2 linked regions of the Homo sapiens genome follow. The protein of the gene in region 1 purifies or fractionates together with the protein of each later gene. This does not show direct contact. Each region holds a gene or a part of one and is shown on either strand. Other genes may lie near its edges.

Region 1 (3,894 bases):
GTGGCTTCAAAGACAGTATGTTCTTATTGCCACTATTTCAACAATGCATAAAAGAATAGCTACTTTGGCATAAACCAGACAGAGTTCCCTTTACTTGTTTTCCTGTGGCAAAGAACACAAGATCTGCAGTTAGCTGGATGGTTAACTAGTACAATTTACAGTAAAAGAAACCTCTGTTTACCTAACAGGGATTATTTTTTAATCTCCTTTAAATTTCGCAATTTCACAACCTAGGGTATTAAGGGGTGAGTCTCATACTGCCCAAGACCTTCTAACAAGGAAGCTCTTGTCCCATATGGGACTTTAAAAAAGCATCTTTGGAGCTGGAAGTGGTGGCTCCAAAGCTGGGTGTAATCCCAGCTACTCTGCAGGGGGAGGCGGGAGGATCCCTTGAGCCCAGGAGACTAGCCTGAACAACACAGCAAAATCTCGTCTCAAAAAAAAACCACAAGGGAGCCTGGGTGATTTATCTAAAAAACAAATCAAAATAAACTTTGGGAAAGGGGGCAGCAGAAACCATTATGTTTACAGTGTGGACATCGACCAAGGAAAGAACTGAGATTTAATGCCTAGAAGTGATGGTCAGGGCTTAGAAAATAATTTTCTGATCCTAAGAGGCAACTCAGTGTGTGGGGAGATTATAAGTCAAGGTAATCACAAAGCAAATTTGCTAACACTATTAAAGGGAGCCCAGGAAACACAAATTACTAACCACCTTGAAATACACTCCTAGAAACAACAAAGAATCTAAAAGGATGTGGTTTTCAAGTTCTTTGTTTGTACCTACTAATTTAAAAAAAGAGATACCTGTATCCATCTCAAACAACTCAAATTATTCTAGTGTATACTTTGCTATAACCACCTTTTTTTTTTTAATGGTGGGAGGTATTAACAATGCCACTTTGCTTCTTACTAGCTGTGTGACTATAACCTTGAGAAGTTATTCAGGATCTTTACTTCTTCAATGTAAACATTAAATACCTACCTGATAAGGTTGTAAAAATAAAAACTAAAGGTAACAATAATGTCATAACAAGTGACAGTACAGTCCAGGAACTGACATGAATTCAAGTGGTTCCACACATAGTCAAAGTCCCTAACTTTCAGCCTAAATACTAGAACAATGTAGGAGATGCTTTAAGAGTGTTATGGGCCAGCTGGGTATGGTGGCTTATGCCTGTAATCCCAGCACTTTGGGAGGCTGAGGCAGGCAGATCACAAGGTCATGAAATCGAGACTATCTTGGCTAACATGGTGAAACACCGTCTCTACTAAAAATAAAAAAATTTAGCCAGGCGTGGTGGCACGTGCCTGTAGTCCCAGCTACTCAGGAAGCTGAGGCAGGAGAATCTCTTGAACCGGGGAGGTGGAGGTTGCACTGAGCCGAGATTGTGCCACTGCACTCCAGCCTGGGAAACACAATCAAGACTCTGCCTCAAAAAAAAAATAGAAAAACAAAACAAAAAAACAAGAGTGCTATGGGCCAGGCACTGTGGCTCATGCCTGTAATCCAGCACTTTGGAAGGCCAAGGTGGGAGGATCACTTGAGGCCAGCCTGGGCAACATAACGAGACCCAGTATTAAAAAAAAGAAAAAAAGCCTGTACATGGTGGCTCACGCCTGTAATCCCAGCACTTTGGGAGGCCTAGGCAGGTGGATCACCTGAGGTTCGAGACCAGCCTGACCAACATGGCGAAACCATCTCTACTAAAAATACAAAAATTAGCTGGGCATGGTGGTGCGCACCTGTAATCCCAGCTACTTGGGAGGCTGAGGCAGGAGAATTGCTTCAACCCAGGAGGTGGAGATTGCAGTGAGCCGAGATCACCCCATTGGACTCCAGCCTGGGCAACAGAGTAAGACACTGTCTCAAAAAACAAAACAAAACAGTGCTATGAAGTTTGTATTTTAGATTCCTGAATTTATTAAGTTTTCACCTCACTTTATTTTTTAAGAGAGTCTTACCCTGTCGCCCAGGCTGTAGTGCAATAGCACAATCTCAGTTCACTGCAACCTCTACCTCCCAGGTTCAAGCAATTCTCCTGCCTCAGCCTCCAGAGTAGTTTGGATTTCAGGAGCCCGCCACCACACCCACCTAATTTTTTGTATTTTTAGTAGAGACAGAGTTTCACAATGTTGGCCAGGCTGGTCTCAAACTCCTGACCTCAGCTGATCCGCCCGCCTCGGCCTCCCAAAGTGCTGGGAATACAGGCGTGAGCCACCGCTAGCCCCCTGTATTTTAAGATGTCTTATTCCTCAAGCCAGAGCCAATACAAGGATAAGAACTGCAAATACTTGAAACAAGAAAGGACAAGTATGAGGACAACGCTTAAGAGAACAGAAGGTCTTTGATAAACCTCTGCCTCCTGTATGGCAATGTTAACAAATGGAAAGATACAATTTTGAGGGTGGTAGGACTAAGAAGTCCAAGAATCTAAACACGGTATCCATGGGAGAAAAATAAGAAAGTTAGACATGATTTTCTTCTGTAGAAGGCCATATAAAGCACAAAATTTTTTTAAAAAGAAAAACTCAAATTTCTTTTTAACAGTGGATAATTTTAATCCTTCCCTCCATTACTTGAGGTTGTGCTGCCAGATTTTTTCCGGTCTAAGCCCATCCTCCAAACTCTACAGTGTTCCTACTGCTACAAACCAAAATTCAAACTCTTGAACATGGCAGTCAATACTTTCCAAGATGTGGCCTCAATTTATTTTCCTGGTTCCATCTGGATTCCACTATAATTTAGTTACATTACATTATTCTCTCCTTAAATTGTGGGTTTTTTGGACTTTGCTCTCATGGTTTCCCTGTGCTCGAAATGGGACTATTGCTCAAACTTGATCAAGACTCAGCTAGCCAGGCGCAGTGGCTCATGCAATCCCAGCACTTTGGGAGGCCGAGGCGGGCAGATCACCTGAGGTCAGGAGTTTGAGACCAGCTTGGCCAATACAGTGAAACCCTGTCTTGACAAAAAAAATACAAAAATTAGTAGGCCGGGTGTGGTGGCTCATGCCTGTAATCCCAGCACTTTGGGAGTCTGAGGCAGGCGGATCACCTGAGGTCAGGTGTTTGAGACCAGCCTGACCAGTATGATGAAACCCTATCTCCACTAAAAATACAAAAATTAGCTGAGAATGGTGGCATGCGCCTGTAATCCCAGCGTTCTGGGAGGCTAAGGCAGGAGAATCGCTTGAGTCTGGGAGGTGGAAGTTGCAGTGAGCCGAGATCATGCTACTGCACTCCAGCCTGGGCAACAAGAGCGAAACGTCATCTCAAAAAAAAAAAAAAAAAAAAAAAAAAAAAAAAAATTAGCCGAGCGTAGTGACACATGCCTGTAATCCCAGCCACTGGGGAGGCTGAGGCAGGAGAATCGCTTGAACATGGGAGACGGCGGTTGCAGTGAGCCAAGATCGTGCCACTACACTCCAGCCTGGGCAACAGAGTGACTCTGTCTCAAAAAACAACAAAAAAAGACTCAGCTAAAATGCTACCTTAATTCAGAAGTTATTCTCAGACTCTCAAGTCATAATCAGTTAATTGCTTTGCACATTACGTTTACAAATATTTCCTGCGGTCAGCAACCCCCTTCTTCCATGTCTGGAATTCACCTAGCACTCAATAAAGATTTAAGCAATAAAAGGCTTAGTTTTACAGGACCTTTCCACAAAAAGTACCATACAGATTGAGCATCCCTCATCCAAAATGCTTGAGACAGAAGTTTTGGATTGTGGAATAGTTGCATTATACTTACCAATTGAACATCCCTTACCCCAAATGAGAAAAACTCCAGTGAATAAGTATTTCCTTTGAGTGTCATATTGACACTCAATTTTTGGATCAGTTCAGACTTTGCAGCATTTCGGATTTCAGAAAAATTGCCCAGCTAATTTT
Region 2 (3,729 bases), on another chromosome or scaffold:
CATCAGATCTTGTGAGACTTATTCACTATCAAGAGAACAGCATGGAAAAGACCTCCTCCCATGACTCAACTCCCACTGGTTACCCCCTACAACACATGGGCATTCAAAATGAGATTTGGGTGGGGACACAGCCAAACCACATCATGGGGCTTTGCCATGTTGGCCAGGCTGGTCTTGAACTCCTGAGCTCAGGTGATCCGCCTGCCTCAGCCTCCCAAAGTGCTGGGATTACAGGTGTGAGCCACTGTGCCTGCCCTGGGCCCAGCCTTTTAACCCTCATTTCGTCTTAGTTCTCTACAAGTAACTATATATTTATGCTGAAGTCTTTGTAGTCATTTTAGTTGTGTGACTTGTATCCTCTAGTAGATTTCTCAGGAAGGGCTCCTAGAAACAATAGTCCCTGAATTCTTGCATATTGATAATAGTTCATATCCTTTACACTCAAAAGCTAATTTTAAAAACAGCTTTGATATAGTATAATTGACATAAACTGCATATCAAGTGCATGATTTGGTGAATTTTGACAAAAATATATCCTGTAGGATCATCACATCACCTCAATCAAGATAAGGAACATGCCCATCATTCCCAAAAGTTTCCTCGGATCCCCTGGTAATCCATCTCCCCATCCTGCAGCCCCCAATCGTGGTGACCATGGGCCTGCTCAGCTGCATTTCCTAGATATTACAGCAGTGGAATCACAGTGTGTCCTTTTTCTTCTTTTTTTCACTCAGCATAATTATTTTGAAATTTATTCTTCATCTTATTTTGTTAAGTCATTTCTTTTTATTGCAGTCATTTCTTTTTATTGCTCGCAGTATTTCCAAAGTATGGATATATCACAACTTATCATTTACCTGTTGATGGACATGTGGACTATTTCCAGTTTTTGGCTATTAAAGCTGCTATAACCTTTTGTGTATAAGTCTTTGTGTGAACTTCAAAGTCAATTTTCCTGGTTATAAATCCTTGGCTCACACTTTCTTTCCTGGAGTATTTTAAACATGTTATTCTTTTTTCTTCTGCACCAATCCTTACTATTGAAGAGTCTGACAATAATCTAATTGTCTTTCCCCTTTAAGTCACAAGGTTCCTTTTCTCTAGAACCCCCCAAAATTTTCTTTAAAGTCTAATAATTTTACTAGAATTATATCTTTTTGTTGGTGATGCTGAGTTGAATTTTTTTTTTTTTTTTTTTTTTTAGAGACGGGGTCTCACTATGTTGGCCAGGTTGGTCTTGAACTCCTGGCCTCAAACAGGAGTTCACCTCGATCTCCCAAAGTGCTAGGATTACAGGCTGAGCCATCACGCCTGGCCTTGATTTTTTTTTTTTTTTTTTTTTTTGAGACAAGTCTTGCTTTGTCGCCCAGGCTGGATTATAATGGCGTGATCTTGGCTCTCTGCAACCTCTGACTCCCGGGTTCAAGCAATTCTCTTGCCTCAGCCTTCCGAGTAGCTGAGATTACAGGTGTGCGCCACCACGTCTGGCTAATTTTTGTATTTTTAGTAGAGACGGGGTTTCGCCATGTTGGTCAGGCTGGTCTTAAACTCCTGACTTCAGGTGATCCGCCCACCTCAGCATCCCAAAGTGCTGGGATTACAGGCTGAGCCACTGCGCCCGGCTGATATTGTTAAGTGTGGGGTATGATCTCTCAATCTCAAGTTTCAAATCTTTGTTTTTTAATTTTAAGAAAGTTTTCTGGATTACTTTTTGGTATTCTGTTTTCCTTTCCAGGGACTCCTGGTATTCGTATGTCTGACCTTTCTGCCTGTCTTTACTTTTGGTCAAAACCTTTTTACCTCTTCATTTTTTTGCTCTTGAAATGTTTCCTTTTTCACACTGTTTATCCTTTTCAGGCAGGATCTGCTGTGTTCATCGACACTTGCATTTCGTCTTAGTCTTTCTTTACTTCTGAAATGATTTTTAATTCTAATTCTTTCCTGAGTTCTGTCACCTTATTTCTGATTTTTAAAAAGTTGATTTACACTATTCTCTCTTGTTTTGTATTGTTAGAATGTCACCTGGCTTGATTTGAAATAGCAGGTTACAGCTTGGCTCGGTTATGTGGGCATGTCTTTCTAATGTGCTCTCATTGTCCGCAGGGAGGTTATTTTGCATATTCTTGTTTCTTATATAACAACTGTATGCAATTTCACTTCAAATACTTTTCTGTTATTTTTAGGTGAGATGAGTTTTCCTGATAAGAAAGGCTCAGGAAAGTCTAAGCTCAGAACTCTCCCTTGTTTCTGTGTGGTGTTAAAAAACGTGGGAGATGGCTTTCAGGAGTTCCTGTCTTTGTTCCTCTTCCCCACATTGGTCTACATCTCATCCTTCCTTTCCTGTGTCCCTATCCAGCTCAACTGTGATTTCATTTCCTGCAGTTCTTCCTCCTGAGGGGCCCTGTCCCAGAGGCTTGCTCTGGAGGATCACAGAGCTCAGATTTCTTCCCGCCCCTTCAGCCTTTCTTATTGTGGGCCGCTTCCACTCACTCGGTGTTACAGAGTGCAAACCCCTCCTGGTCATTTCTCCAAAGGCCCCCAGAAGATGCTCACCATCATCTTTGATTAGCAAAATGCAAATAAAAATCACAATAAGGGCCGGGTGTGGTGGCTTACACCTGTAATCCCAGCACTTTGGGAGGCTGAGGTGGGCGGATCACTTGAGGCCAGGAGTTTGAGACCAACCTGGGCAAAATGGTGAAACCCTGTCTCTACTACAAATACAAAAATTAGCCGGGTGTTGTGGCGTGTGCCTGTAATTCCAGCTGCTCAAGAGGCTGAGGCATGAGAATTGCTTGAACCTGGGAGGCGGGGGTTGCAGTGAGCCGAGATCATGTCACTGCACTCCAGCCTGGGTGACAGAGCAAGCCTCCGTCTCAAAAAAACAGAACAAAACAAACCCAAAAAATCACAATAAGATACCACCTCACATTCACTAGGACAGCTGTAACCAAAATGACAGACATATGTTAGTGAGGATGTGGAGAAATTAGAACCCTCATACACTGCTGATGGGAATGTAAAAGGGTACAGTTACTTTGCAAAACAGTTTAGCAATTCCTCAAAAAGTTAAACACAGAATTACCATATGACTCAGCAATTTCACACCTAGGTATAGACCCAAGAGAATTAAAAACATATGTTCATGCAAAAACTTATCTGCAAATGTTCATAGCAGCATTATTCATAAGGCCGAGAACATCCATCATCTGATGAATGGATAAACAAAATGTCTATATTCACAATGGAGTATTATCCAGCCATAAAAAGGAATGGAGTGCTGATACACGCTATGATATGGATGAAACTTGAACTCATTATAGTAAGTAGGAGAAGCCAGTCACAAAAGACCACAGATTGTCTCATTCTATGTACAACTGATCCTCAATTTCATTTCATTATAATGCTGACAAGATTAAAAAAAAAAAAACAACTCCCAGCGGGGGCCCCTGCCTGTGTGGAGTCTGTGTGTTCTCCCTGTGTCTGCGTGGGCTCTCTCCTGGTACTCTGGTTTCCTTTCACACAATAAAGATGTGCATGTTCACTTCAATGGTACGTCTGCATTGTCCCAGTGTGAGTGTGGGGGTGTGTGTGAGTGCTCCTCTGGTGGAATGGTATCCTGTCCAGGGCTGGCTTCTGCCTCATGCCCTAAGCTGCCAGGACAGGCTCCAACCACCTGTGACCCTGAACTGGAATGAGTAGATTAGAAAAAGAATAGATACAAATTAT

Evidence for each region. The genes of interacting proteins can lie anywhere in the genome.
Region 2: the proteins of AKIRIN1 (region 1) and SEC13 purify together in Homo sapiens (affinity purification with mass spectrometry, with the first as the bait; one large-scale study listed by BioGRID). This does not show direct contact.

What each region holds. Positions count from the first base shown.
Region 1 is NC_000001.11:38,994,090-38,997,983, reverse strand, and holds part of AKIRIN1 (akirin-1), read right to left. Parts: intron 1-3,894. UniProt on the Homo sapiens protein: Molecular adapter that acts as a bridge between proteins, and which is involved skeletal muscle development. Functions as a signal transducer for MSTN during skeletal muscle regeneration and myogenesis.
Region 2 is NC_000003.12:10,307,613-10,311,341, forward strand, and holds part of SEC13 (protein SEC13 homolog), read right to left. Parts: intron 1-3,729. UniProt on the Homo sapiens protein: Functions as a component of the nuclear pore complex (NPC) and the COPII coat. At the endoplasmic reticulum, SEC13 is involved in the biogenesis of COPII-coated vesicles.